Linked DNA regions of Homo sapiens. The protein of the gene in region 4 interacts with the protein of the main gene of each other region in a pairwise test. Each region holds a gene or a part of one and is shown on either strand. Other genes may lie near its edges.

Evidence for each region.
Region 1: the proteins of EIF2S3 (region 4) and RANGRF interact in binary tests that used the Homo sapiens proteins (3 or more experiments, as listed by UniProt).
Region 2: the proteins of EIF2S3 (region 4) and MAPDA interact in binary tests that used the Homo sapiens proteins (3 or more experiments, as listed by UniProt).
Region 3: the proteins of EIF2S3 (region 4) and TAF8 interact in binary tests that used the Homo sapiens proteins (3 or more experiments, as listed by UniProt).

Annotation. Positions count from the first base shown.
Region 1 is NC_000017.11:8,283,795-8,290,599, reverse strand, and holds RANGRF (ran guanine nucleotide release factor), read right to left. Parts: upstream 1,931-6,805; 5' UTR 1,812-1,930; coding exon 1,735-1,811; exon of another isoform or gene 1,645-1,734; coding exon 1,528-1,644; exon of another isoform or gene 1,343-1,527; coding exon 1,186-1,342; coding exon of another isoform or gene 1,098-1,185; coding exon 1,012-1,097; coding exon of another isoform or gene 1,008-1,011; exon of another isoform or gene 985-1,007; coding exon of another isoform or gene 957-984; exon of another isoform or gene 788-956; coding exon 664-787; coding exon of another isoform or gene 616-663; 3' UTR 513-615; downstream 1-512. Other genes in the region: SLC25A35 (solute carrier family 25 member 35), read left to right, coding at 1-95. UniProt on the Homo sapiens protein: May regulate the intracellular trafficking of RAN. Promotes guanine nucleotide release from RAN and inhibits binding of new GTP by preventing the binding of the RAN guanine nucleotide exchange factor RCC1.
Region 2 is NC_000015.10:43,326,174-43,333,676, reverse strand, and holds the start of MAPDA (N6-Methyl-AMP deaminase), read right to left. Parts: upstream 3,006-7,503; 5' UTR 2,818-3,005; intron 1,778-2,817; 5' UTR 1,677-1,777; intron 367-1,676; 5' UTR 243-366; intron 1-242. Other genes in the region: LCMT2 (tRNA wybutosine-synthesizing protein 4), read left to right, coding at 3,188-5,248. UniProt on the Homo sapiens protein: Catalyzes the hydrolysis of the free cytosolic methylated adenosine nucleotide N(6)-methyl-AMP (N6-mAMP) to produce inositol monophosphate (IMP) and methylamine.
Region 3 is NC_000006.12:42,060,508-42,067,532, forward strand, and holds part of TAF8 (transcription initiation factor TFIID subunit 8), read left to right. Parts: intron 1-5,804; coding exon 5,805-5,952; intron 5,953-7,025. UniProt on the Homo sapiens protein: The TFIID basal transcription factor complex plays a major role in the initiation of RNA polymerase II (Pol II)-dependent transcription.
Region 4 is NC_000023.11:24,064,954-24,071,978, reverse strand, and holds part of EIF2S3 (eukaryotic translation initiation factor 2 subunit 3), read right to left. Parts: intron 5,982-7,025; coding exon 5,887-5,981; intron 4,016-5,886; coding exon 3,871-4,015; intron 422-3,870; coding exon 252-421; intron 1-251. UniProt on the Homo sapiens protein: Member of the eIF2 complex that functions in the early steps of protein synthesis by forming a ternary complex with GTP and initiator tRNA.

The DNA.
Region 1 (6,805 bases), on a different chromosome or scaffold from region 4:
TAGGTGCCTCCTACTTCCGCCTCGGCCCCCACACCATCCTCTCCCTCTTCTTCTGGGACCAGCTGCGCTCCCTCTACTACACAGACACTAAATAACAGCCGCTTTCCCAGTCTCCACCAAATGAGCACTCCTTGGCCACTTGTGCCTCCACCACTATGTCCTGGTGACTACTGATTAGGTGACCTTTCATCCATCCATGGGGGACAGCCAACCCCACTCCCCATCTGTTCTCAGGGTTGAATCACTACAAGAGATGAGTTTCCCTTCTTTCCTTGGGTGTTGCTTTAAACCTTCCCTACCCATTCCCTGGGTAACTCACACCCCTCTCTCAGGGCTGAACGAGTCATCCCAAAGTGTATTTCCTCCCACTCACCACTGCCACCCTTGAGTCCCTCCTGCTCCCATGCACAGTTTTAAACTCCTCCCTCCAAAACCAAAGGGAATCGAGAGACCCAATTCCCAGGCGTCTGGGACCCAGGTGTCCTGTTAGATTCAAAGGCACAGAGATTATATTGATTATAAAGCAAGTTTATTCTGAAGAGGGATTGTCTTATGTTTACGCACAGGGAAGAAATAAGAGGAAACCCTCTTTTCAACCTCTTTTCCCCCTCACAGAACCGAGTCCCCAAGTTCTCAGCAACATCATGCAGTGCTTCAGCGCCTTTACTGGGGACCAAAGATGTTAGGATCGTGAAGGGTCAGACTGGTCACCAGCTGTTCAAAGTCACCCAGGCTCCAGGGTGCAGGTGACAGATTTTCGGGGCCAAGAGATGACCTGTTGTCAGGGCTTGGGGTGGGGGAACAGATGGAGACAGAACATCATCCAGGCCTGAGGTTTGGAAATTGCCAATTCCTGTTCCCCAGAGGACCTGGGTATCAGTTACCCCAAACCTCTGGCCCACTCCTGCTTCCTTGGAGGATCCCACCAGTGAGTCTCCCTGTTCTGTCCCTCCCAGCCCGATTCTCCTGGGAACCCAGTCATGAGATACCCGCCCGTTCCTTCCTCCTTACGGGGGCTGATTGAAGGTAAGCAAGAGATCAGTCTGGTACTGGGGCAGCCTCAGCAAGGCCTGATGAAGTGTCACGTCCTTTGCTACCTAAGGGGATCAGAGTCAGGATGCTTACCTGGATCTCTGCGTCCCCGCTACCGCCCTTCCAGGACATTACACACTCTCGGGCCCTCACCTGCTGGTTTTCCTTAGCTATCTGCTGCTTGCCAGAGAGGACCCAGGCTTCTTGACAGCGGCCCCTCAGGGCCAGGTTCTCCAAACTGAGAGGCTGAACAGACTCCACATGGACAGCCCTAGCCCCCTGCACGCCACCAACATCCTCAAAGTGGTACCTGGAGTAGGGAAGCGGGGTCAGGAAGGGACATCTCTGGTCGCCTCCCCGGGAGCATCTTTAAGTTGCAGGCCTGGCTCCCGGCCCGTGCGTGGTCTCACCGCCCGGATTAACCGTCGGCCGCGGGCCCCGCCCACTGGTCCGACCCCGCCCCTGCCATTGGCCAGCCGGGGGCCATTCCCTCACCGCGCAGCCGCTTCGCCCCGTACGTGGGCCTGCAGCTCGAGAAGTTCCACTATCAGGCTCTGGTCCGTCACGGGATGGCAGAAAACTTCTTGATTGTCCGGGACCGGTCGGAGGTCGCTGGAGTGAGGCGAGGCAGACCCTGGTTGACCCCGGTCTCTTCCCACAACCCACCCAGTCAGCCGCCCCTGGGCGCCCCGGCCTTCTCACCTTACGTCAATGGCCCCCATGGGGAGGATGGCGGAAAAGGCGCCCCCGAACAGCGGGCAGTCTCTCGTGGGCTCCATGGGTCTGAGGCTGGGTTATGGGCATTAGAAAGGTTTAAAAGAAGTCCACATTGGGTCACGTGGCATCGGCTCCCTGGGTTTCGCAGCTGCCACCGCCACCCGGGTCTGGCTTAGCTCCCGGATCCTTTAAGATTTGGCTCCGCCCTGCGCTCTCGTTGGCCAATCGGCGCCAAGACCCTGGGGGCGGGGGTCAGCGGCTTTGCTCCGGAAGCCGCGCTCTTAGGAGTGCGCCTGGCGGGACGGTGGGGTCTGCCTTGGGGTTGGACTTAGGGTTAGGGTCTATGTCGCCCCCGGTGGTCACGAGCATGCTCCCGCCAGCCTCCTCTTGATTGATTGATTGATTGATTGATTGACAGGTCTCGCTGTGTCGCCCAGGCTGTAATGCAGTGGCGCGATCACCGCTCACTGCAGTCTCCACCTCCAGGACTCAAGTGATACTCCTGCCTCAGCCTCTTGAGTGGCTCCTGCTCCCGCCACCACGCCCGGCTAAATTTTTAATTACTTGTAGAAATGGGGCGGGGTGGGGAGTGTCTCCCAATCTTGCCCAGGCTGGCCTCAAACTCCTGGACTCAAGCGATCCTCCCGCCTCGGCTCCCTAAGTGCTGGAATTACAGGCGAGAGCCACAGCGCCTGGCCTCCTCGTCCTTTTCAAGTGGTCACACCTTCCAAGAAGGTCGCCTGAGACCCTCCTGAGGGGCAGGTGCTCGTCAAAGGGGCCCACGTCTAGGTAGGGTCTCTTGAGTCAGGAAAGCATAGTTTCACGGTGTTCTGGGCCTCTGAAAGAAGAATGGGCTGCCACCCAGACCGCTAATTCATAGATCTGCTGCTGGGAATTAGGGGAACAATGCGTCCAGGTTAGGATTCAGGTCTCACATCTTCCTGAAAGTGAGAGCCAACCTGGGTATTAGAAATCTAATTCCTCTCAAATATTTGCCTTGGGAATGCTCCCGGGCAGGTGCAACCCCACCCCCAGCTCCACACACCTGGACAGAAGCACAGATTAAACCCTCTTTTGTTTGTCTTTTACAGATTTGTTGTGTTCTTTAAGTTTTAACTTCACTATATCATTTCAGTTCATTTCTCTATTCATCTTTGATCCTCAGCACCCGGCACGGTGTTTAGAGCATAACAGACCTGATATATATTGGGTTTTTTTGTTTTGTTTTGTTTTTGAGATGGAGTTTCACTCTTGTTGCCCAGGCTGGAGTGCAATGGCATGATCTTGGCTCACTGCAACCTCCGCCTCCTGGGTTCAAGCTGTTCTCCTGCCCCAACCTCCCAAGTAGCTGGATTACAGGCATGCACCACCACACCCAGCTAATTTTGTATTTTTAGTAGAGATGGAGTTTCTCCATGTTGGTCAGGTGAGTCTCGAACTTCCGACCTCAGATGATCCGCCTGCCTTGGCCTCCCAAAGTGCTGGGATTATTACAGGCGTGAGCCAGCGTGCCCAGCCCAGACCTAATATATATTGTTAAGTGATTGAATAAACTCAATGCAAATGTCTGGAACCCAGGAGATCACCCATACCCTCATGGATTCTAGATGTCACCTACTTCCCAGCCAAGAATTGGGCAAGAGGACTCTGATCTTGAGGCCATTCCACAGGGTTCCAAGTGCTGACCATACCTCTGGACCCTAATGACTTAGTGAAATGAAGCCAAAGGGTACATATTTATTGGTCTCTTACCTTGCCAGGCCCTAATGTGAAGGGCTGGAGATACAAAGACATTTAGGACACAGCCCCCGATGCCTCACTGAAGGAACAGTGGAGCACACTTTGAGTCTTTTTTTGTTTTTTTTTTTGAGAGGCGGTCTCACTGTTGCCAAGACTAGACTGTAGTGGTGCAGTCGTAGCTCACTGCAGCCTCAACCTTGTGGGCTCAAGCCATCCTCCTGCCTCAGCCTCCTGAGTAGCTGGGACTACAGGCATGCACCACCATGCTCCGGTAATTTTTGTGTGTGTGTGTGTGTTTTATTTTAGGGATGGAGTCTCACTGTGTTGCCCAGGCTGGTCTCGGACTTCTGGTCTCAAGTGATCCTCCTGCCTTGGCCTCCCAAAGTGATGGGATTATAGGCATGCGCCACCATGCCTGGCCCATACTTTGAGTCTTAAAGTTTGACTCAGAATTCAGTAGGACATCCTAGGGGTATTCTAGCTGGGGGAACATCAGGAGCAAAAACTTGGAGATGAGAGGGCATATTTTGGAGAAAGCAAGTGTATCTGTTTGGCAAGGGAGGGTAGGATGGGAATGGGTGGCAGGGAGCTGCAAACACAGTCAGGTGTGCAGGGTTTTTGTAGCGCACACTAAGGAGCTTGACTCCTCATTTCTTACTATAGCCATCAGACTCCTCTCTGAGTCTCATTTCCTCATCTCTAAAATGCTGTTGGGGGGCCAGGCGCCGTGGCTCACACCTGTAATCCCAGCACTTTGGGAGGCCCAGGTGGGTGGATCACCTGAGATCAGGAGTTCTAGACCAGCCTGGCCAACATGGTCAAACCCTGTCTCTACTAAACATACAAAAAAAAAAAAAAACAAAGGAAGAAATCAGATATGGATGTAGTTGAGTCTGACCTATTTCTGGGTAAAGAGAGTAGAATAAGTTTGCTGTATGAGGAATTTGACAGAGCGGGGGCGTTACAGGCTCTAGAGGGAAAGAAGGACCCCAGCCATGGGAAACAAAAGGAGCCAGGTCAGAGGAGTCCACCCCATGATGCTTCTCTGGGATAATGAGTGACAGACCTCTCTGTCCCTCTCTCCTCCTTGCTGCCAGCCTGCTCTCCAGCTCCATTCCCCACCAGGGGCAATACTGGCTCTGGCTGCTTTGGGAGCAGTCAAGCAGGTAGAGTCCTTGGAAAGGGACCTACAGGGACATAGAAGTTAACAGGGTGCCTGCACCAGGCATAAGGGGGTGTGGAGGCCTGTTACATGGGCCCAGAGGAGGTCACGCCAGGTCAGGAAGGCTGAGAAAAAAGCCCCCCCAACTTCCTCATTTTGGGTGTCTGGCCTGTCTCATGTTCTCCCATGAGCCCTACGCAGCTGGGGACCCCTGGCCCTCCACAATTCTGTGGGCTCTTGGGGGCTGCTCAGCCAGACCTCCTCTGAATGAATGGGGTGGAAGGCCACCCTCACTTGGCAAATCCCCACGCTTGGCTCCACTTCCCCTTCTCCCTTCACCTTTTTTTTTGTGTGCCTGTCAATTCTGCTGGCCCTGCCACCTGTCGACTCCCTCAAGTGTTCAAATTCCAACTTCCCAAGGGACAGGATCCAACTGGGTCGATTAGTTGTTATTCAATCTGAAAGTACCTATTTGGCCGGCTCTCCTGCCTGGCCACTCCTCAGGCCACCACCCAAACACAAGGGAGATCTCTGGTCCAGCTGGCTGTGGCTAGGATGATAAGTATCAGGGGACAAATCTCAGTAGAGAGAAGGCCAGCAGCCACTTTTCTCAGGCGAATGTGAGGGTATGGCTCGCTGTCAGCCCACTGGTTGCAAGTAGGCCTGCAACTGATTGATTCTCTACACCTGGGACATTCCCTTATCCAATGCCCTGCATGCAGTTGATGCAGTTGTTTGCTATGGGGACAAGAGTCCCAGAGACTCTCCCCTTTAGGGCACCAAGAGATGGACTCAGATCAGAGAGACAACACCACACCCAAAGTCAAGCATTCCTTTGAGTTAGGACAATGAATATTTCTATTAAGCAGGGGTTTTCGTCCTTTTTTCTACTGTGGACTGCTTTGGCAGTTTTGTGAAGCCCATGATCCCCTATTCGGTGTAATGTTATTATTTTTATTTTTTCTGTGTTTTTGAGACAGGGTCTTATTCTGTCACCCAGGCTGGAGTGCAGTGGCATGATAACAGCTCACTGCAGCCTCAACCTCCTGGGCTTAAGCCATCCTCCCACCTTGGACTCTCAAAGAGATTACAGGCATGGGCCAGGTGCGGTGGCTCACGCCTGTAATCCTAGCACTTTGAGAGGCCTAGGTGGGCAGATTGCTTGAGCTCAGGAGTTTGAGACCAGCCTGGAAAACAAAGTGAGACTCTGTCTCTATTACCAAAAAAAAAAAAAAAAATTAGCCAGGCATGGTGGCATATGCCTGTAGTGCCAGCTACTTGGGAGGCCAAGGTGGGAGGATGACTTGAGCCTGGGAGGCAGAGGTTGTAATGAGCCAAGATCACGCCATTGCACTCCAGCCTGGTCAACAGAGCCAGACTGTTTCTCAAAAAATAAAAAAGAAAATTAAACCCAGATATTTGATAGAGTACAAGTCTACTTCTTTGTTATCATATTAACTAGATCTAGCAGCAGTCTCTAATAAATGTAATAAAAAACTAGCAATGCATACAAATTATGGTTCAAGATATCCACAGCCATTCTAAAGTAAGCATATCTGTAACTGCTATTGAGATGAAACCACAGATACTGCTAATACTACTGTGGTTTGTTACCTAAATTCACAGTGAAAGGAAATGCTAAATTTCAGTTAAAAGGTTACTGAAAACATGGCTGTACGCAGTGGCTCACCCCTGTGATCCTAACACCGTAGGAGGCCCAGGAGGGAGGACTGCTTGAGCCCAGAAGTTCGAGACTAGGCTGCGCAACATGGCAGAACACCAACTCTACCAAAAAAATACAAAAATTAGCTGGGCATAGTGACTCGCACCTCCCAGCTACTGGGGAGGCTGAGGCGGGAGGATTGCTTCAGCCTGGGAGCTTGAGGCTGCAGTGAGTCGACATCATGCCACTGCACTCCAGCCTGTGTGACAGAGGGAGACCCTGTCTCAAAAAAAAAAAAAAAAAAAAGAGCCAGGAGTGGTGGTACACACCTGTAGTATCAGCTACTTGGGAGGCTGAGGTGGGAGGATGGCTTGAGCCGGGAGGTTGAGGCTGCGGTGAGCCGAGATGCCACTGCACTCTAGCCTGGGTGACAGAGGGAGACCCTGTCTCAAAATATCATAGCCTGGGCGACAAGAGCTAAACTCCGTCTC
Region 2 (7,503 bases), on a different chromosome or scaffold from region 4:
TTAAATAAGTTACCAAGATATTAAAATGTACAATAAAGAAAGTAGTTTGTATAGGACTAAACATAGCCATAGAAATCCATAGAAAGGCCTACTTAGTATGAGATAAACATGGCATTTCAAAGTAATGCCATAGTAAGTGCTTAATAAATAGTAAAAAATGAAAAAGATGGACTATTTAATCAATGGCATTTAATATCTCTACCGAAAAACATAAATGATTTAATTAAAATGGAAAAACATACCTTTTTTTTTTTTTCTTTTGAGACAGGATCTTACTTTGTTGCCCAGGCTGGAGTGCAGTGTCACGATCACAGCTTGCTGCAGTCTCAAGCTTCCAGACTCAAGCGATCCTCCCACTTCAGCCTCCTAAGCAGCAGAGATCACAGGCATGCACCACAATGCCCATCTAATTTTATATAAAATTTTTTTTGTAGAGACGGGGTCTCACCATGTTGCCCAGGCTGGTCTCAAACTCCTGGGCTCAAGTGATCCACCAGCCTGAGCTGGGATTACAGGAGCGAGCCACTGCGCCCGGCCAGATTTTCAATTTTACTCCAGGATCCTGACCTTAATTTGTGCCCCATTCAAACCATCCTCCAGACTGACCTTTAACTAGCTGTGAGTAAATTTACTGACCCACTGGCTACAATGTTAACCTATGGAAATTAAAAAGCAACTAAGCAATCATAATCTTTACACATTAAAAAAAATTGTTGTTCCTTGCCTAAAACATGGATACCAACAACAGCATGCCATGACAAATTTAACTTTTCTGGACTGGTTTTGCTCTGGGACGGAAGGCAACAAACACTGGGATAAGATCCACGTTAGTAATACTTCATCAATATTAGAGCAGGGCCAGAAGCAAGTATCCTGTCTCCCAGGGAACTTTTTTCATGCTCCCACCTACTCCCCCAAAAGGGAACTCAGAATAAAAAAAAATTTGTTACTGTTTATTATGCACTTACCATGAGCCAGGCACTGTGGTGTCTTAGATAGTTATTTTGTTTAAATCCTCACAACAACCCCTGAGATATTATTATCCCCATTTTATATAAGAATAAACTGAGATTTAAACAATGGCCCCTCCTCCCCCGGCCTAAATCATAAGGCATCGAAATCAGAAATTTTACTCCATTCTCTTTCTTCTTTAATTACTTTTCTTGATCTGGTCTTTGCAAAACAAGTAGTATTTTTGACATAACACCTACATTTTAGGAACCTGTCATTAAATAAATTTGTTTCTATGGTGCTACGTATTTTTCAAAGTCCTTCAACTTTTTTTTTTTTTCTATTTGCCCCTCAATCAACCCTGAGATACCTCACGAAGCAGTACTTAATCTCATTTTAGAGGTGAGGATCCACTGACCCAGCAGGCATAGGTGAGCCCTTCTTCTAATCCCTTCAGAAGCAATTCTCAAACTGCTCAAATGTTCCATCAGATCTGAATGCCTTACACTAAACTGACAACTCTGTCACCAACTTTACAGAGAAAACAGAAGCCATCAGGTGCAAATTCCTTCTTTTTCTCTCTGCCCTACCTCACACCTGAGCTTATGATTATCCATAATCTTTTTTTTACCCCATCAGGAGTCACAGATAAAGGATTCATTCTCCTATCCCCACAACTAATACGTGCCCAGGATCCCATTTCTATCTATTCCAAGTTACTCTACCAGTGAGTTGTCTTCTCATTTTTCTGTTCCTTCAACCTCTCCCTCTCCACTAGCTGGTTTCCCTCACAGGACCAACACGCATGTGCAGTATTTGCTTCCACCTGAAAACAAAACAAAAGACTCTTTTATCCCACAATATTCTTTAGCCACTGCCCTGACCCTTTTTTCCTTCTGAGTTAAGCTCCTCGAAAGTATAATAATTTAGACTGGATACCTCCTTTAACTCACCTCCTATTCACTGAAACATGGATTCTGCCCTTATTGCTCCACAGAAACTGCTCTCCCTAAGGCCATTAATGAGCTTTTAAACACCAAATCTAAATGTCACTTTTCAATTACCGAATCTTTATCCTGATCCAAACCTTTTCTTTCTTATTTCATTTTGTTCCACAAGAAAACATTGGAAAATACGAAACTTTTTCTTGACTCCAGTATCCAAATCTGCTGGACTCCAAAACTCACACTCTTAACCATTATGCAGTACCACCTGTAGTTAACCATAAAGTTATCTGATTTCCTTTTCTATTTCAGCCAGTCAGTCACCAAATCCCAGTGAACAAATGATAAATTTCCTAAATGTCTCTGGAAGTGGTTTCCTATGGATGACTCCCAGACACCCAATTTAGAAACTTTATGATTATTCTGAAGTCTAACCTGGATTTACTCCTTAAAAACAAAGCTCAGAACATATCACAGGGAACAATCACCTCTCTTCAGTGACTCCCCTTTCTGGGGACATATTCAACACTACTTTAAAATCCACAGAATTCTCCAAGGCGGTGTGATGAGAAAGAGAGGCTGAGTGGTTTATTCACCGTCAGTCTAACATAGGGCTGGGAATACAAGGGAATCAACAGTCTACTATCTGTGGGGAAACGTCTTCTTGTTAGGTGTCTATAAATTATTTGTAAAGGTCGGTTTCTTCAGTTTGCACCCTGGCCTTAGTGACTTGTTTTCAAGTTTTAAATGGGGTTCTCTTTTGCAACTGTGAGAGCATTAAATAAATCAGCAACTATTAGCACCCAAGGAAGCTAACTAATCCTTGCCTACTGAAGGTCCGTGGTGCCGACCCTTCTTGGCTCCTACCAGACCCTTCCTTGGCGGTCCAAGGAAGCCAAGTCGTCAGTCCCCACAGACTCACCTCTTAGAGATTTCTCAACTACAAGGACTTAGGCAAGGTTTCCCTTTTGACTGGAAGGCTTGTAGAAACGTGACAACCCGCCTTCCCTAACACTCATGTCACAGCGGTAGCGGACCGTATTCTGGGACAAATGGAACTCACGACATTCCAAAGAAAGGTCAGCCGCAAGCGAACTTAGCACTGGCTACACCCTCCTCAATTCTGGTTGGCGAGATGCGCTCTTCCCGGAAGTGACGCACAAGTGCCGGCGGAAGGGGAAGTCCAGGAGCATGGGTGGTTTTTTTCCCCCTACCGAGGTCCGTGAGGTGTGTGCTAACCAAGGGGCGGCTCACAACCGTGACAGACTGCCATTCCTGAGTCTCTTCTGGCCATGGGCCCCCGGAGCCGTGAGCGTCGGGCAGGCGCGGTACAGAACACCAACGACAGCAGCGCCCTCAGCAAGCGTTCCCTGGCCGCGCGCGGGTACGTGCAGGACCCCTTTGCCGCGTTGCTGGTTCCGGGCGCGGCGCGCCGCGCACCGCTCATTCACCGAGGCTACTACGTCCGCGCACGCGCCGTGAGGCACTGCGTGCGCGCTTTTTTGGAGCAGATTGGCGCGCCCCAGGCCGCGCTTCGCGCGCAGATCTTGTCTCTCGGCGCTGGCTTCGACTCGCTCTATTTTCGCTTAAAAACCGCGGGCCGCCTGGCCCGGGCTGCAGTCTGGGAGGTGGATTTTCCGGACGTGGCGCGGCGCAAAGCAGAAAGGATTGGAGAGACGCCAGAGCTGTGCGCGTTAACCGGGCCTTTCGAGAGGGGGGAGCCCGCGTCCGCGCTGTGCTTTGAGAGCGCAGACTACTGCATCCTGGGTCTGGACTTGCGGCAGCTCCAGCGAGTGGAGGAGGCCCTGGGCGCCGCGGGGCTCGACGCAGCCTCACCCACTCTGCTCCTGGCCGAGGCGGTGCTGACCTACCTCGAGCCGGAGAGTGCCGCGGCCCTCATCGCCTGGGCAGCCCAGCGTTTTCCTAATGCCCTTTTCGTGGTCTATGAGCAGATGAGGCCTCAAGACGCCTTTGGCCAGTTCATGCTGCAACATTTTCGGCAGCTAAACTCCCCCCTGCATGGCCTGGAGCGTTTTCCTGACGTGGAGGCGCAGCGGCGCCGCTTCCTTCAAGCTGGCTGGACCGCCTGCGGTGCCGTGGACATGAATGAATTCTATCACTGCTTTCTTCCCGCAGAAGAACGCCGGCGGGTGGAAAATATTGAACCCTTTGACGAATTTGAGGAGTGGCATCTGAAGTGCGCCCATTATTTCATTCTGGCAGCTTCTAGGGGAGACACCCTCTCCCACACCCTAGTGTTTCCATCCTCAGAGGCATTTCCTCGCGTAAATCCTGCTTCGCCTTCAGGGGTATTCCCTGCCAGCGTAGTCAGTAGCGAGGGCCAGGTCCCAAACCTGAAGAGATATGGCCACGCCTCTGTCTTCTTGAGCCCAGACGTTATTCTCAGTGCAGGAGGATTTGGAGAGCAGGAGGGGCGGCACTGCCGAGTGAGCCAGTTTCACTTGCTCTCAAGAGATTGTGACTCTGAATGGAAAGGCAGCCAAATAGGCAGTTGTGGGACTGGAGTTCAGTGGGATGGACGCCTTTATCACACCATGACAAGACTCTCAGAGAGTCGGGTTCTGGTTCTGGGAGGGAGACTGTCCCCAGTAAGTCCAGCCTTGGGGGTTCTCCAGCTTCATTTTTTTAAGAGTGAGGATAATAACACTGAGGACCTGAAAGTGACAATAACAAAGGCTGGCCGAAAGGATGATTCCACTTTGTGTTGTTGGCGGCATTCAACAACAGAAGTGTCCTGTCAGAATCAGGAATATTTGTTTGTGTATGGGGGTCGAAGCGTGGTGGAACCTGTACTAAGTGACTGGCATTTCCTCCATGTAGGGACAATGGCTTGGGTCAGGATCCCAGTGGAGGGAGAAGTACCTGAAGCCCGGCATTCTCACAGTGCCTGCACTTGGCAAGGGGGAGCCCTTATTGCTGGAGGTCTCGGGGCTTCTGAGGAGCCATTGAACTCTGTGCTCTTTCTGAGACCAATCTCTTGTGGATTCCTCTGGGAGTCAGTAGACATCCAGCCTCCCATTACCCCAAGGTACTCCCACACAGCTCATGTGCTCAATGGAAAGCTGTTACTGGTTGGAGGGATCTGGATTCATTCCTCCTCATTTCCTGGAGTGACTGTGATCAATTTGACTACAGGATTGAGCTCTGAGTATCAGATTGACACAACATATGTGCCATGGCCATTAATGTTACACAACCATACTAGTATCCTTCTTCCTGAAGAGCAACAGCTCCTGCTCCTTGGAGGTGGTGGGAACTGCTTTTCCTTTGGTACCTACTTCAACCCCCATACAGTCACATTAGACCTTTCTTCCTTAAGTGCTGGGCAGTAAGGACTGGACTAATATTCAGGACCCACTAAAGTAGACAATAAAGTTTTCCACAAATAGGATGACCCTCTAGCTATAGATACTGCCACTCCTCCTTTCCCCATCCTTTTTTTCCCTTAGCACTATTCAGTGCAAAAAGTGAAAAAGGTTGGTAAAATAGGTAAAATACCTAGAAACAATCACTACAGAAAACAGCTGAAGACAGTGGCCATGCAGTCCGAGAGGAGTAGTGGTCTGCCTCTAATTTTCTAATCTAAGTTCGTTTATTGAGTTACAGTGGTCTTTAGTAAAGTAAAACAATTTCCCAATCCCAGGCCTTGTGATTTGAGATGGTACCTTAGAAAAAGTTACACGCAGTTCCGTGGTTGAATATATTTGAGATGGTACCTTAGAAAAAGTTTCACGCAGATCCTTGGTTGAATATAGTTGAGGGAGCGTAGTATTGACAATTCTTCATGTAGGAAACCTGAAATGAACACAGTCACAGTTTGATTAAAACATTGTCCTGTTTGTTGCAACAGAAAACTCGGATAGTTTTAACAACAGGAAACACTTGTAGGACTTCCTTTACCAACATACTTTTTAAATGTTTTGCTATTGGTTCCATATTTATTTAGATTTATAAGTGTCAATAAAGCAAACTTTTGATGCCTCAATTCATTTTGCACGGGGTATAATAATGTTTTGTTCCAGATATACTCTCCACCTTTCACTGTTCTGTGCTCCAAGAGGCTGACCTTTATGGGCTGCATCAAGGAGCTCTCTTTACTTTTTGGTTGAGTTCCACCAGTCAGAGGCACCAGAGGGGAATGGGGGCAAAAAGAAGAGTGAGAGTGAGTTGGTATTTATTCCCAATTCTTCCCCTGTTGGTTTGCAAGTTGGCAGTGGCAGCATTCTTCTGTCAAAGGCTACAGCTCCTGCCGTGTAATCCTTTCCTGAAGACAGAGTTCTAATTCTGCATCATCCCAGGTTTCAGTAATTGTTCCTTTACTTCACCTTTTCAGGCCTAGGAGTTGTGATGGCTCTTTGCTAGACCTGAACTGTACTGTCCAATGTGGTAGCTATTGACAACATGTGACTATTTAAACGAATTAATAAATTCAGTGGCTTAGTCACATTGACCACATTTTAAGTGCTTAATAACTATGTGTGGCTTTGGCTACTGTATTAGACAATGTAGATGTAGAACATTTCATCGTTACAGAAATTTCTACTGGACACTGCTGACTGGATATCTTGACTTGGTTTCCCTTAACCCTACTCAGCCCCTTATAGTTAGCATCCCATTAAACTCAATTATCCCTTTTAAATGGGAATCTGTTGCCTAGTGAGCCATGTGAGATCAATGAAATAGCTATTCATCCTTAAAATTTGAGCCTTAATTTGTCATCTAAATTATGCATACCTTGTGAAATATACACCTCAAAAAATGTAGTGGCTTTGGTGGTAATAAGTGTATTACTTTAGTATTTCTTCTTAGTCCTAGAAACCTTAGTAGTTTTCATTCTACAAGTGCCTAAATGATTATTATGAACCATCATTGATGACAAATTGCATCCTTTATTTCTATTAATTTTGCATATAAATGGATGTGAAAGGTGATTAATATAAAAACCAAGTAGCAAACACAAACCTAAGTGTATGGAGAGGACAGTCTTGGCTCTGTTAGATGAAGCCTCCCCGGGGGAGACCAGCTGAATGAGGGTTGTGGTATAGGCTGGGCATGGTGGCTCACGCCTATAATTCCAGCACTTTGGGAGGCCAAGACAGAAGGATCACTTAAAGCCAGGAGTTTAAGACCAGCCCAGGCAACAAAGTCAGATCCCCATCTCTACAAAAAAATAAGTAGGCACGGTGGTGTGTGCTTGTAGTCTTGGATACTCTGGAGGCTGAGGTGATAGTGAGCTGTGATTGTGCCACTGCACTCCTGCCTGGTTGACAGAGTGAGACCCCGTCTCTTAAAAAGAAAAAAAAAAAAGGTTGTTGTCCAACTTCAGCTTTCCTGAGACTTTGTAAGAGCCATTTCTAGGGAAAGCATTGGTTATGGCTATGACTGAGTCCTGGGAAACAGGGCTTATTACAGCTGGGAAGACATCTGGCAAGGCGATCAGTGGGCCAGGTAGTAGAAAACTGGCAGGGAATATGATCAGCAGGAGAAAATGGCTGTTCTGTATTTCCTGTTTCTAAGTTTACTACAGCACACCCCAGCTTTCAGGAGCAGATAAAAGCAGAACACTGTGATGAGGCCAGGCGCAGTG
Region 3 (7,025 bases), on a different chromosome or scaffold from region 4:
TTGTACCCTCAAATACCTATGAGTTGGGCAAATTTGTCTCCTCTTGAGGTCCCAAGATAGCTTGGGGTTCCTGAGCCTGTTTGAAAGTGACATTCTTTACTTACCACAGGTCAGGAACCTTGTACAGAGACTCTGTGTGGACGGGGTATAAGGCCAGATTCCCCAACGGGCTTTAATTGGCTATATAAGTCAACTTTGATTCTTTAAAAAAAAGCATGCCATTCCAGTCAAAGCCTTGGTAAAATAACCAATTTCTCCAACTGTGGCCTGTTACAAAAGAAAACAGATTCTTATTGCACTTATGCAATTAGCTATACTGCCATAAATTGAGAATATTCACAAATAGTTTCCAAATTCTGGAGAAATCAGGTAGAGAGGAACAATATGCTGTAAATTTTGTTCACAGGAGTTTATTTTACTCACATGATAAAAGTTGCAAATAGTTCTAAAGAAATAATTTCTCTTGACTCTGAAAACAAAAGGTTTAGCAATGTTTAACACATTAGCTCTCCGTGAGAGTCCTAGAAGTTTGTTTTTTTCCTCTATTCCAATAGCACAGTTCTTAAAGTTATCTGAGACCTGCACTTAGAGTCCTATATTTGATTATAAACTGCATTTTGAAAAGGACCAAAGCAAGATAAAATGTCTGTGGATGACAAAAGTCTATAGCCACTATTAAAGCTACAATTGACTAGGAATTTTGGTTACTTCTGTGGCATACAACAATTTTACATAGCAATTATAATTATTAATGTACACTAAACTATATCAACATTATAGAAGTTTCCCATAATTTTGGACACATACTAATAATATATTTATACAAATACAGTCTAAAGTAAACCAAACACCATTCACTCTTCTATTTGAAAGTTTTTCCTCTATTCTAATGTCACAATCTCCAGAGTTATTAATCAGAAACCTGCATTTATTAGCACCTGTTAAATTTTATAGCTGATTATAAAACCATCTTTTAAAGAGGACCAAAATGAGACAAGTGTATGACAAAAACATTTTAGGGCAGCCACAGTTAAAGGCACAATTGGCAAGGAAATTTGTTACCTCTGTGGCACACAATCTGTTAACATAATCATTATAATTATTACTGATAACATACACTAAGTCATATTAGAATTATAGAAGTTTTATGTAATTTTGGAACATATACCAATAACATTTATACAAATATAGACCAAAGAAAGCCAAACACCATTTCATATTTGACAATGCCTCCTGTATGATTTTGTATCAGATAAGCCAAATCATTTTTGGGCTTTAGAGGACCTAATATCTAAAAGGTTAGAAAGAGACATAATTTTTAATTGGATTTTGGAAAGTTTGTCAAATATCAAAGGTTTAAAACACTGGATATCACAAAATAGAATCCCAGGTCACCATAAGTCATTCGTTTAGCCAAAATGATAACTCCAAAAAATTTTTTTGTAAAGAAAAACTTTTACTCTGTTAGAGGAGACTTAGCTTTCCAAACAAGACTCGATGAAGATAGCATGAGGCCAACTGAATCTGTCTCTTCTCTCCCTCTCCTCTTTTTTTTCCCTGCCATTCACCCAAAGGAGAAAAGAAAACCCTTTCATTATCTTTTAACATTACATAAAAATCATCTTCAGAAGAGAAAAACAAATTTCATATTTGTACTAGCGCATCTTTAATGTTAAAGCTAGTTTTTTAAATAAAATTTTATATCTCTACCCAGTTTTAATTAGTTTGACCATACAGTAAGATTTTCATAAACTTTTTAGAACCCTTTACAATTTTCCACCAAACAGTAGGTCAATTTTCTAAGAAAACCCTGTTATTCAGACACGTGGGTCCAGATTCTGGCCCCACATCAGTATGATTTTAATGTTTTAGCCTACAGAAAAAAGCTAAATAATTTCTTTTAAATCTTAGCCAACTTGTTGATACCCACAGAATTTTTACACGATCAACCCTTTACAAACCTTTTTTACTTAGCTTAAATCTTCAGTTTCGATTCTGTTACTCTTTTAGGTTAAGACAATCTTTTTTTTTTTTTTTTTTTTTTTTGAGACAGAGTCTTGCTCTGTTGCCAGGCTGGAGTGCAGTGGTGCGATCTCAGCTCACTGCAACCTCCACCACCTCCCGGGTTCAAGTGATTCTCCTGCCTCAGCCTCCCAAGTGGCTGGGACTACAAGCGCCTGCCACCAAGCCTGGCTAATTTTTTTTTTTTTCTTAAGTAGAGATGGGGTTTCACCATATTGACCAGGCTGGTCTCGAACTCCTGACCTTGTGATCCACCTACCTTGGCCTCCCAAAGTTTTGGGATTACAGGCATGAGCCACCGTGCCTGGCCAAGACAATCTTTAAAACCCTCTGAACTAGACAAAATTACATTCCCTTTAACAAAAGCTATGGCTAAAGCTATGCCAAGTTCACATGGCATTCTCTATCTCTGTCTTCCTGTGGCCAGCTTCTTAGGAGGACACTAGTCATATTGCACTAGGGACCCACCTTACCTTAGTAAGACCTCATCTTCACTGTGCTTACATCTGCAGTGACCCTATTTCCAAATAAGGTCATATTGTGAGGTACTAGGACATATCAAAAATGTTTTTTTGTGGGGACACAGTTCAACCCATAACATTCTTTAACTCTTTTATATAGTATATCCCTATCTGTAACATTTTTTTTTGAAACAGGGTCTCACTTTGTTGCCCAGGCTGCTGGAGTGCAATGGGCGATCTCAGCTCACCACAGCCTCGACCTTCTAGGCTCAAGTGATCCTCCCACCTCAACCTCCCGAGTAGCTGGGACTACAGGGGTGCACCACCATGCCCAGCTAATTTTTGTATCTTCTGTAGAGACAAGATATCGCCATGTTGCCCAGGCTGGTCTCAAACTCCTGGGCGCAAGCAGTTCACCCAGGCATGGGTACATACTCCAGTATATGTTTGCTTATTTATGTGAATATTATAATGTAACATTGTACAAAATAATGTACATTAAAAGATAATCTTACCCTTTTAAAATGTTCAGGAAACCTATAACCTTTTCTAGCGGGAGCAATTGCCTCTGCTTTTTATTTTTTGAAATCATAGGGTTTTTGTTTGTTTTGTTGTTCTTGTTTGTTTTGTTGTTGTTGTTATTTTATAGAGATGGGGACAGGTTTTTTGTCTTTCTGTGGTGCTCAAGCTGGTCTTGAACTCCTAGCCTTAAGTAGTCTTTGCACCTTGGCCTCCCAGAGTGCTGGGATTACAGGCATGCACCACTGTGCTCAGTCTTTTTTTAGAGGTGGAGTTCTCGCTCTGTTGCCCAGGCTGGAGTGCAGTGGTGTAATCATGGCACTACAGCTTTGAACTCCCGGGCTCAAGCAGTCCTCCCACCTCAGCCTGCAGAGTAGCTAGGACCACAAGCACACGCTACCATGCCAGCCTAGAAATCTTGGTTTAATACTTGATGGAATAGTAAGTTGGAGGTCAGAATCTAAGATTAGTTTATTTTGATACTTTAATGGCTCTCATAGTTGAAAATGGTACATCACAAACATATGTAACATCATTGGCTGCTCTTAATAAATCATAAAACTAATTTTTTTCATCCTCATTTACTCATTATCCAAAGAATTTGGTTGAAAATTTTCTATTAAATTTCTAATTTATTGAGTGCCAAAAGTTGTCTTAGGAATCATTACAAGATTTTGCATTTTAATGTTTTTAACAAGTACAATATGTTCAAAATCCACTCATTTTATTATTGGGAAGTTTTGGGGTTTTTTTGTGGGGGGTGGACAGAGTCTCGCTCAGTCCCCCAGGCTGGAGTGCAGTGGTGTGATCTCGGCTCACTTCAACCTCTGTCTCCCAGGTTCAAGCGATTCTCATGTCTCAGCCTCCCCCAAGTAGTTGGGATTACAGGTGCCCACCACCACGCCTGGCTAATTTTTGTATTTTTAGTAGAGACCGGGTGTTACCATGTTGACCAGGCTAGTCTCAAACTCCTGACCTCAGGTAATCTATCCGCCTCGGCCTCCCAAAGTGCTGGGATTACAGGTGTGAGCCACCACACCCAGCCTTTTGGGAAGATTTTTAACACGTCAGAAAATTCTGTTTCTTTGTTTAAGTACAGATGTGAGAACTGTATAGGTGACACACTTGAACTGATGGTGACAACAAAGAAACATTTCCAGGTGCCTTCTTTAAAAATGCTATCTCAGCCTGTAATCCCAGCACTTTGGGAGGCTGAGGCGGGTGGATCACAAGGTCAGGAGATCGAGACCATCCTGGCAAACACAGTGAAACCCGTCTCTACTAAAAATACAAAAAAATTAGCCAGGAGTGGTGGCAGGCGTCTGTAGTCCCAGCTACTCGGGAGGCTGAGGCAGGAGAATGGCATGCACCCGGGGGGCGGAGCTTGCAGTGAGCAGAGATCCCGCCACTGCACTCCAGCCTGGGTGACAGAGCAAGACTCTGTCTCAAAAAAAAAAAAAAAAAAAAAATGGTATCTCAGTATCATGAAGAGTAGTTACTTTATTGGTCGTTGTTAAAATGTCACCGTTGCCATTACCAATTAAAATGTTTTCCGGCTGGGCGCGGTGACTCACACCTGTAATCCCAGCACTTTGGGAGGCCAAGGTGGGTGGATCATCTGAGGTCAGGAGTTCGAGACCAGCCTGGCCAACATGATGAAACCCCATCTCTACTAAAAATACAAAAATTAGCTGGGCATGGTGGCACGTGCCTGTAGTCCCAGCTACTCAGGAGTCTGAGGCAGGAGAATCGCTTGAACCCAGGAGGTGGAGGTTGCAGTGAGCTGAGATGGCGCCACTGCACTCCAGCCTGGGTGACAGAGCAAGACTCTGTCTCCAAAAAATAAAAATAATAAAATAAAAAGTTTTGGCTCATTTCTCATTCTGATCTCAATCATTTTCACTCCATAACTTGATTGCCAGCAAGCTCATAATTAGGAGGAAGAGTAGCAGCCTGCCGTTTTCTTGGTCACTTGCACGTATAATAAGATCTTCAGCCTCTCTTTCTTTGAGGGAATCTTTTTGGAACAATGTATCCATATTGTGAGGATTGATTTAATAAGATGGGATGGTATAATCCACAAGTCCACATAGGCAGCCACTCCCATACTGCAGGAGGTCACATTGCGCTGATGGAACCTGTGGTCCCCATCAGGGCTTCCCTGGGGGCACTCCCACTCTTTCTTCACGATGCGTCTCTTAGACCCGAGACCATCTGTCATGGGAGCTGAATGAAGGCTCCAAGACAATCTCTACAGTAAATATTTGTACATTTCTTAATTTTTAATTAGAAATGAATATTAATGTAGTTACATTGTTTTTCCACCTTTCTACTGTGCTTTGGTGATCTTGGCTCTAACTAATAGTATTGGGTCATTTAATTTAATTTTATTTATTTATTTATTTTTTGAGACAGAGTCTCGCTCCTGCTGCACAGGCTGGAGTGCAATGATGCAGTCTCGGCTCACTGCAACCTCCGCCTCCTGGGTTCAAGCGATTCTCCTGCCTCAGCCTCCCAAGTAGCTGGGATTACTGGTGCCCACCACCACACCCAGCTAATTTTTGTATTTTTGGTAGAGACGGGGTTTCGTTATGTTGGCCAGGCTGGTCTCAAACTCCTGATCTCAGGTGATCCACCAGCCTTGGCCTCCCAAAGTGCTGGGATTACAGGTGTGAGCCACTGTGCCTGGCCTGGTATTGGGTCATTTTAGAGAACAGGGCATAGCAACAGCAAGCCAGGGAGCTGATGAAAGCAGAATGATACTTCGGCATCACCCCAGTGTCTTTGCTGCTCTCTTCGTAGACGTACCGTGAGCCCGTGTCAGACTACCAGGTCCTGCGGGAGAAGGCTGCATCCCAGAGGCGCGATGTGGAGCGGGCACTTACCCGTTTCATGGCCAAGACAGGCGAGACTCAGAGTCTTTTCAAAGATGACGTCAGCACATTTCCATGTGAGAGTTGCCCCACTGTGTGGACCCTGTCTTATTTGAAACACTCACATTATCTTTTCTTTCTCTCAGCATGGTAGGAAGAAACAAATAAGCTTTTGTCCTTCCCTTGGGTACAGCTTGCCTCTCAGATTTCTGGCTCCCTTCCCCAGGTCTTAAGAGTCTGTCCTTAACTGACGACTCCAAAACAGTAATGGTCTCTGTTGGGACTGGCTGCTTGAGGTCCATAGAGTTACCTTGAGGGTAGCCTAGGCCTAGGCATCAGAGACACTTGGTGGCAGCCCAGGTAGTAGAAGAACATTGGCATCAGGGGCCAGTTGCCCATCGTGATGTTCCCTCGTAGGTCCCACCTCATTTAACTTGGCATCTCAGCACTATTTGGCCATGTTGACCAAGCTACTTCATTTCCAAAGACCTCAGTTTTTACAAATGTGAGTGAGGGAGGTTGGTTTGGGTGATTCATTCATTCAGCAAGCTCCTGTGGAACGCCCGCTGTGTGCCTGGCTCTGGAATAACAGCAGCTGCCGGTTGTTAAGTGCCAGATACTGTGCTCATCATTTCCCATACATTATCTCATTAAATCCTCTTGTGAGCCTCTGAGTTGGGAACTGATATATCACTACCTTCATAGGAACCCTTCAATGAGGCACAAGAGAAGAGAAATGAAGTCACTTCCTCAAGGAACATGGCTAGTAGACATCATTCAAACCTAGCTCTTACTGCAGGACCCCACATCTGACCCACAGCAAAAATAATTCTGGAGTTTTTGTGGGTTTTTTTGAGACAGAGTCTTGCTTTGTCATCCAGCCTGGAATACAGTGGCGCAATCTCTGCTCACTGCAACCTCCGCCTCCCGGGTTCCAGCGATTCTTCTGCTTCAGCAAGTAGCTGGGACTACAGGCAGGAGCCACCACACCCAGCTAATTTTTTGTATTTTTAGTAGAGACGGGGTTTCACCCAGTTGGCCAGGTTGGTCTTGAACTCCTGAGCTCAAGTGATCTGCCTGCCTCAGCCTCCCAAAGTGCTGGGATTATAGGCATGAGCCACCACACCCAGCCAATTCTAGAGTATTTTCT
Region 4 (7,025 bases):
GCTTGAACCCAGGAGGTGGAGGTTGCCGTGAGCCGAGATCGCGCCACTGCACTCCAGCCTGGGCAACAGAGCGAGAGACTCCATCTCTAAATTAAAAAAAAAAAAACCCTCAATTTTGGGGAGGTCAAATTTATTTACCTTTTCTTTTTTTCTTAATTTCATGTTAACTGTAAAACAATAAAACTCAACACTGGTTTAACACTCCCATTTGTCACTTTTTTAGAAACAGGAATTTTTAAAAAAGCATTTACCTTTGCTGCTTTCTTGTCTCCTTCAGTGCGTACACCTAGAAGCCGTCTAAGCAGGAAATAGGAAATTTCCAATTCTGTGAATATCTCAGGTAAAGCTCCGACTGCACCAAGTACTTGCCCCACCATTCTGTCAGCCCGGCACAAAGTGGGGTCAATTTTTGTTCCAACTCCTATATAAAAATAAGATGTATATAGCTCAATTTTTTATTTCCTAAAACACCTATAAAGTGAATTAGTTGGCCAGGTGCAGTGGCTCACACCTGTAATCCCAGCACTTTGGGAGGCCGAGGCAGGTGGATGCCTGAGCTCAGGAGTTAAAGACCAGCCTGGGCAACACGGTGAAACCCTGTCTCTATTAAAATACAAAAAATTAGCCAGGCGTGGCGGCGTGCACCTGTAGTCTCAGCTACTTGGGAGGCTGAGGCAGGAGAATCACTTGAACCCAGGAGGCAGAGGTTGTAGTGAGCCGAGATCGCACCACTGCACTCCAACCTGGGTGACAGAGTGAGACTCTGTCTCCAAAAAAAAAAAAAGTGAATTAGATACCCCAAAGCCATATAAGCACAGCATATACCTACACACTTTCATACTTTTATTTTTATACTCATATAATAGCTATATAGGTACAAGAAAATACCTGTTTTATCTAGACAAATAGAAATATACACTCATGAGATGACTGGGCAAATGAGAACAGAACGATTCTCTTGATTTAAATTCTAAACAAAGGGTTTAGAAATCTGATTTTCTAGGAATGATGGCTTGGCTGAGAACTTAATGCAGGAGATGGTAAGTATTACTGACCTGGTCTTGAAAACAATAAATTCTAAACAAAGGGCAAATAGAGATAATAAGTGAACTCAAAATGAGTCCGAATATCCTTAACAAAGACCGAAAGAATACAAAATTCAAAATGAGTAGTTTGCAGAATACCTGCATGCCATTTCTCCCCTGAAAGACTGATTGAAAAGATAGTTAAAGACTACATATGGGCCAGGCGCAGTGGCTCACACTTATAATCCCAGCACTTGGGGAGGCCCAAGTTGGAGGATTACCTAAGGTCAGGAGTTCAAGACAAGTCTAGCCAACATGGCAAAACCCAATCTCTACTAAAAATACAATAGCTGGGCATGGTGGCAGACACCTATAATCCCAGCTACTCGAGAGGCTAACGCAGGAGAATCACTTGAACCTGGGAGGCAGAGGTTGCAGTGAGCCGAGATCGTGCCACTGCACTCCAGCCTGGGCGACAGAGTGAGACTCTCAAAAAAAAAAAAAAAAAAAAAAACTACATATGATTCCTGGGATCTACTTCAAAATATTCTAGCTGTGTCTTGAGGGGAGTAGGGGAAAGAAGATATATAGATGGAGCAAGATTGATTGGGAAAACTTTTTTTTGCTGCTGTTGTTGAGACACAGTCTCTGTCGCCCAGGCTGGAGTGCAGTGGTGTGATCTCGGCTCACTGTGACCTGGGATTACAGGCTGGGATTACAGGCATGTGCCACCACACCTGACTAAATTTTTTTTTTTTTTTGTATTTTTAGTAGAGACAGGGTTTTTCGAACTCCTGACCTCAGGTGATCCGTCCACCTCGGCCTCCCGAAGTGCTGGGAATACAGACATGAGCCACCACGCCCAGCCAAGACTGGTAAAACATTAATAATTGCTGAAGCTGAGTGATGGCTCTATGGGGGTTATCATTACAGTATTCTATCCTATGTTTAAAGAGTTCCTTAGGCCAAGTGTGGTGGCTCACGCCTGTAATCCCAGTATTTTGGGAGGCCAAGGAGGGCAGATCACTTAAGACCAGAAGTTCGAGACCAGCCTGGCCAACATGGCGAAACCCCATCTCTACTAAAAATACAAAAATTAGCTGGCTGTGGTGGTATGTGCCTATAGTTCCAGCTACTCGGGAGGCTGAGGCAGGAGAATTAACTGAACCCAGGAGGCAAAGGTTGCAGCGAGCCGAGATAATACTACTGCACTCCAGCCTGGGTGGCAGAATGAGACTCTGCCTCAAAAAAAAAAAAAAAAAAAAAAGAAATTAAAAAAGTTCCTTAAGTTAAATTTTTAAAAAGTTTCCAGATTTCCCTTGTTTACCACACACATGCACACAAAAGATAAAATGATAGATGGAACTACAGGCACACACCACCAAACCCAGCTAATCTTACTATTTTATTGGAGAAATGGCATCTCATGGTTTCCTAGGCTGGTCTCAAACTCCTGGTCTCAAGCAATCTTCCCACCTCAGCTTCCCAAAGCACTGGAATTATGAGCATGAGCCACCATACCCAACCTGGTAAATTCATTTTTTCTTTTCTTTTCTTCTTGTTTTTTTTTTTTTTTTGAGACAGAGTGTCACTCTGTCACCCAGGCTGGAGTGCACTGGTGTGATCTCGGCTCACCCTCCGCCTTCTGGGTTCAAGCGATTCTCATGCCTCAGCCTCCCGAGTAGCCGGGATTACAGGCGTGGGCCACCACACCCAGCTAACTTTTGTATTTTTAGTAGAGACAAGGTTTTACCATGTTGCCCAGGCTGGTCTCAAACTCCTGAGCTCAAGCGATCCACCCACCTCAGCCTCCCAAATTGCTGGGATCACAGGCATGAGACACTGCGCCCAGCCAACCTGGTAAACTCTTTTTCATTTTTTTGTTTTCTTTTATTTCCTTTTTAAAATTTTCAACCAGAGACACAACTTATTGGGTGAAGAATTAACTGTTTCTTTACCAAACATTTTCTTCTTTAATCTAAAGGTACAACACCCCTTCTAATTCTCACTGAATCTTTCATTTTTCTGGGTATTGAGTAATACACTAAGTTGTAAGGGACTAGAAAAGTTTTTAAATCACTTCAGTAATTGCTACACAAAGAAATTTACTTTCTTTTATTTCTACCTCATTGGAAATACGACCTGATATCATTCAACTGACATTTGTAGGTAATTTTCCATTTGCAAAATATACATAAAAGCAACCATGGCCGGGCATGGTGGTTCACGCCTGTAATCCTAGCACTTTGAAAGGCCGAGGCAGGGGGACTGCCTGAGCTCAGGAGTTCAAGACCAGCCTGGGCAACACGGTGAAACCCCGTCTCTACTAAAATACAAAAATCTTAGCTGGGCCTGGCAGCATGTGCCTGTAGTCCCAGCTACTCGGGAGGCTGAGGCATAAGAATTGCTTGAACCTGGGAGGCAGAGGCTGCAGTGAGCCAAGATTGCACCACTGCACTCCAGCCTGGAGGACACAGCGAGACTCCATCTCCCAAAAAAAAAAAAGGCAACCATTATCTAGCACAAAAATCATGTTAACAAAAACATAAGTGTAGGTAAATATCTTACATGATAAGTCATCAAATTTATTTTTTTATATTGCTAAAAAGGAGTTACTCTATATTTGATCAAAATGTATCCTTTGTGTTTAAAAATAATTTTTACAAACCCATGAAACCATCTTATAACCTAAAACAAGAGCTTAACCACATGATTGTTCCCCACCCTACTCTATTATTAAAATACCCAATTAAAAATCTGTAATATGTCCCTTTTGGTAATCCATCCCCCATGAAAAGTACCACAAATAGCCACAAATTAAAAGAGATGAGAAAAAAATCCTTACCAATAAGACCGCCTGGAGCAGCATATTGCAGATCATTATGCTCCGCAAAAAGTGATACAATTTTGGAAAAGATTGGTTTACACATGAGTTTTCCTTCACTATCTTTGGAAACAATACCAGGTCTTACTTCTATCTCCTGGCCCACCTGTAAACATATAATTAGTAATTAGAATTACTGTGTTACGCAAAATTATCATTTACCTATCAAAAGTTCCAACAGGGACTGGGTGCGGTGGCTCACATGTGTAATCCTAGCATTTTGGGAGGCCGAGGCGGGTGGATCACCTGAGGTCAGGAGTTCGAGACCAGCCCAGCCAACATAGTGAAACCCCGTCTCTACTAAAAACACAAAAATTAGCCAGGTGTGGTGGCACGCACCTGTAATCCCTGCTACTCAGGAGGCTGCGGCAGAATTGCTAGAACCTGGGAGGCAGAGGTTGCAGTGAACCGAGATCGCACCACTGCACTCCAGCCTGGGTGACAAAGAGAGACTCTGTCTCAAAAATAAAATAAAATAAAATAATAATAAAGGTCCAACCGGAAGACCATAAAACTGAAAAGGCAATCATTCCTGTATTTCAAAGATCATTATTCTTAAAAAAAAAAAAAAAAAAAGATGTGAACGAGACTGTCAAAACCAGAACCATCCAACTGTTGTTAACTACCCACCACACAAGTCTATTACCACATCAAATGTGCTCCATACTTACAAGTCTATAAATTTTCAAGTCAGACACATTCAAAAGACATAACAGAAAACAAAGAAATATAGCTGGGCGTGGTGGCTTATGCCTGTAATCCCAGCACTTTGGGAGGCTGAGGCAGGCAGATCACCTGAGGTCAGGAGTTAAGAGACCAGCCTGGCCAATATGGCAAAACCCCATCTCTACCAAAAAAATTAGCTGGGCGAGGTTGCGAGTGCCTGTAGCCCCAGCAAGTCGGGAGGCTGTGGCAGGAGAATCATCACCTGAACCCAGGAGGTGGAGGTTGCAGTGAGTCAAGATCATGCCACTGTGCTCAAAAAACAAAACAAAAAAAAAACTATTATCAGAGCATGTAAATTAGTATAGCTACCATGGAGAACAGTATGGAGGTTCCTTGAAAACCTGAAAATACAGCTACCATATGATCCATCAGTTTCACTAGTGGGTATACATTCACCAGAAAGGGAAGCAATATTATCAAAGAGGTATCTGCACTCCCATGTTTATTGTAGCACAGTTCACAATAGCCAAACATGGAATCAACCTAAGTGCCCATGAACAGATGAATGGATAAAGAAAATGCAGTATATAGGCCGGGCAAAGTGGCTCACGCCTATAATCCCAACACTTTGGGAGGCCGAGGCGGGTGGATCACTTGAGGTAAGGAGTTCAAGACCAGCCTGGCCAACATGGTGAAACCCTGTCTTTACTACAAATACAAAAATTAGCTGGGCATGGTGGGGGGTGCTTGTAATCCCAGCTACTTGGGAGGCTGGGGCAGGGAGAATCGCTTGAACCCAGGAGGTGAAGGTTGCAGTGAGCTGAGATCGCTCCAGCTTGGGCGAAACAGCAAGACTCCGCCTCAAGAAAAAAAAAAAAAAGAAAAGAAAAGCAATGGCAGCATATATATATATGCAATGAAGTATTATGCAGCCATAAAAAAAAATTCTGCCATTTGCAGCAGCACATCTAGAATTGGAGGCCATTTTGTTAAGTAAAATAAGCCAGGCACAAAAAGACAAATATCACACATTCTCACTCATCTGTATATGTGGAAGCTAAAAAGGTGGATCTCATGAAGGTAGATTGTGGATTCAGAGGTCTAGAAGGGTGGGAGGAGTGAAGTTTGAAGAGAGAAAAAAAGAATATTAAAAAAGAGAACTCTACATCAAATACCAGAAACCATGGAAAAAATTTTATTTTTCAATTTGGATTGTCCATACTTTTTTTCCTGATTAAGACAAGGATAAAACAAACAAACAAACAACAAAAAAAAAAAACCCAAAATCACAACAACCAAAACCCATTTTACCTTTAATACTCCTTTTAGGATACTACCACCAGCTACACCTCCCTTAAGGTCATCAACTTCACAGCCAGGTTTGTTGACATCAAAAGATCTAATAACTAAAATAAAACAAATTAAAGTCAGTTCTGTTAATCTTAACTTTAGAAGAAATATTATTTTCCATGTTAATGTTTCTAAAATAGTGGCCATTTGAGATTTATACCAAAGGGGTGCCTTTTTAACAAAATCTATTATTATTCCAATGATTAAGCAGTCTTACTTATGATGGAAAAAATGAAAGTAACTTAAGTTTATTAATAAGTGGCATATAGGGTATACCAGTATTATAGAGCATCACGCAGCTATTAACAATGTTAGAGCTATATGTAATGATCTGGAAGGATGACCCTCACATACTGTTAAGAAAAGTTATAAAAATTACACGCATAATATAATCCCACTTCCATAAAGAAAAATAAAATAATCAATGTCTGTATATGGATTTTTTTTTCCCTCTATCATAGAGGCTGGAGTGCAGTGGCACAATCATAGCTCACTGCAGCCTCAAATTCCTGGGCTCAATCTTCCTGCCTCAGCCTACCGAGTAGCTCGGACTACAGGTACACACCACTGCACCCAGCTGTAATATTTTATTTTTTGTAGAAATGGGGTCTTCCCTTAATGCCCAGGATGGTCCTGAACTCCTAGCCTCAAGCAATCCTCTCACCTCAGCGTCAGCCTCCCAAAGTGCTGGGATTACAGGTGAAAGCCACCATGCCCAGCCTGTGTATATGTTTATACACGATGATATGAACAAAGAGAAAAGTGTGGGAATAATGGACACCAAATGTTAACTTTGCTGACTTTAGGGCTAAGGAACTAGAACTTGAAGACAGAGAGATTATGGACATTTTCTTTATAGACCTCTGTAACTCCTGTAAGAACAATTCAGCTTTATAACTATAAAACACTAGGACTACATGACCTGCACTTCGGAGACTATTTCCTACTAAACACCAGAAGCTCGGATGAAAGCCAGAGGAGCTCAAATGTCTGTTTCGAGAAGGCTACTACATCCCCGTGTAGGAACCACAAGCCTAGGTGATCAAATTATACCAGTATCAGTTCTTCGTTAATTGAACAACAAAATCATCTGTAAATGT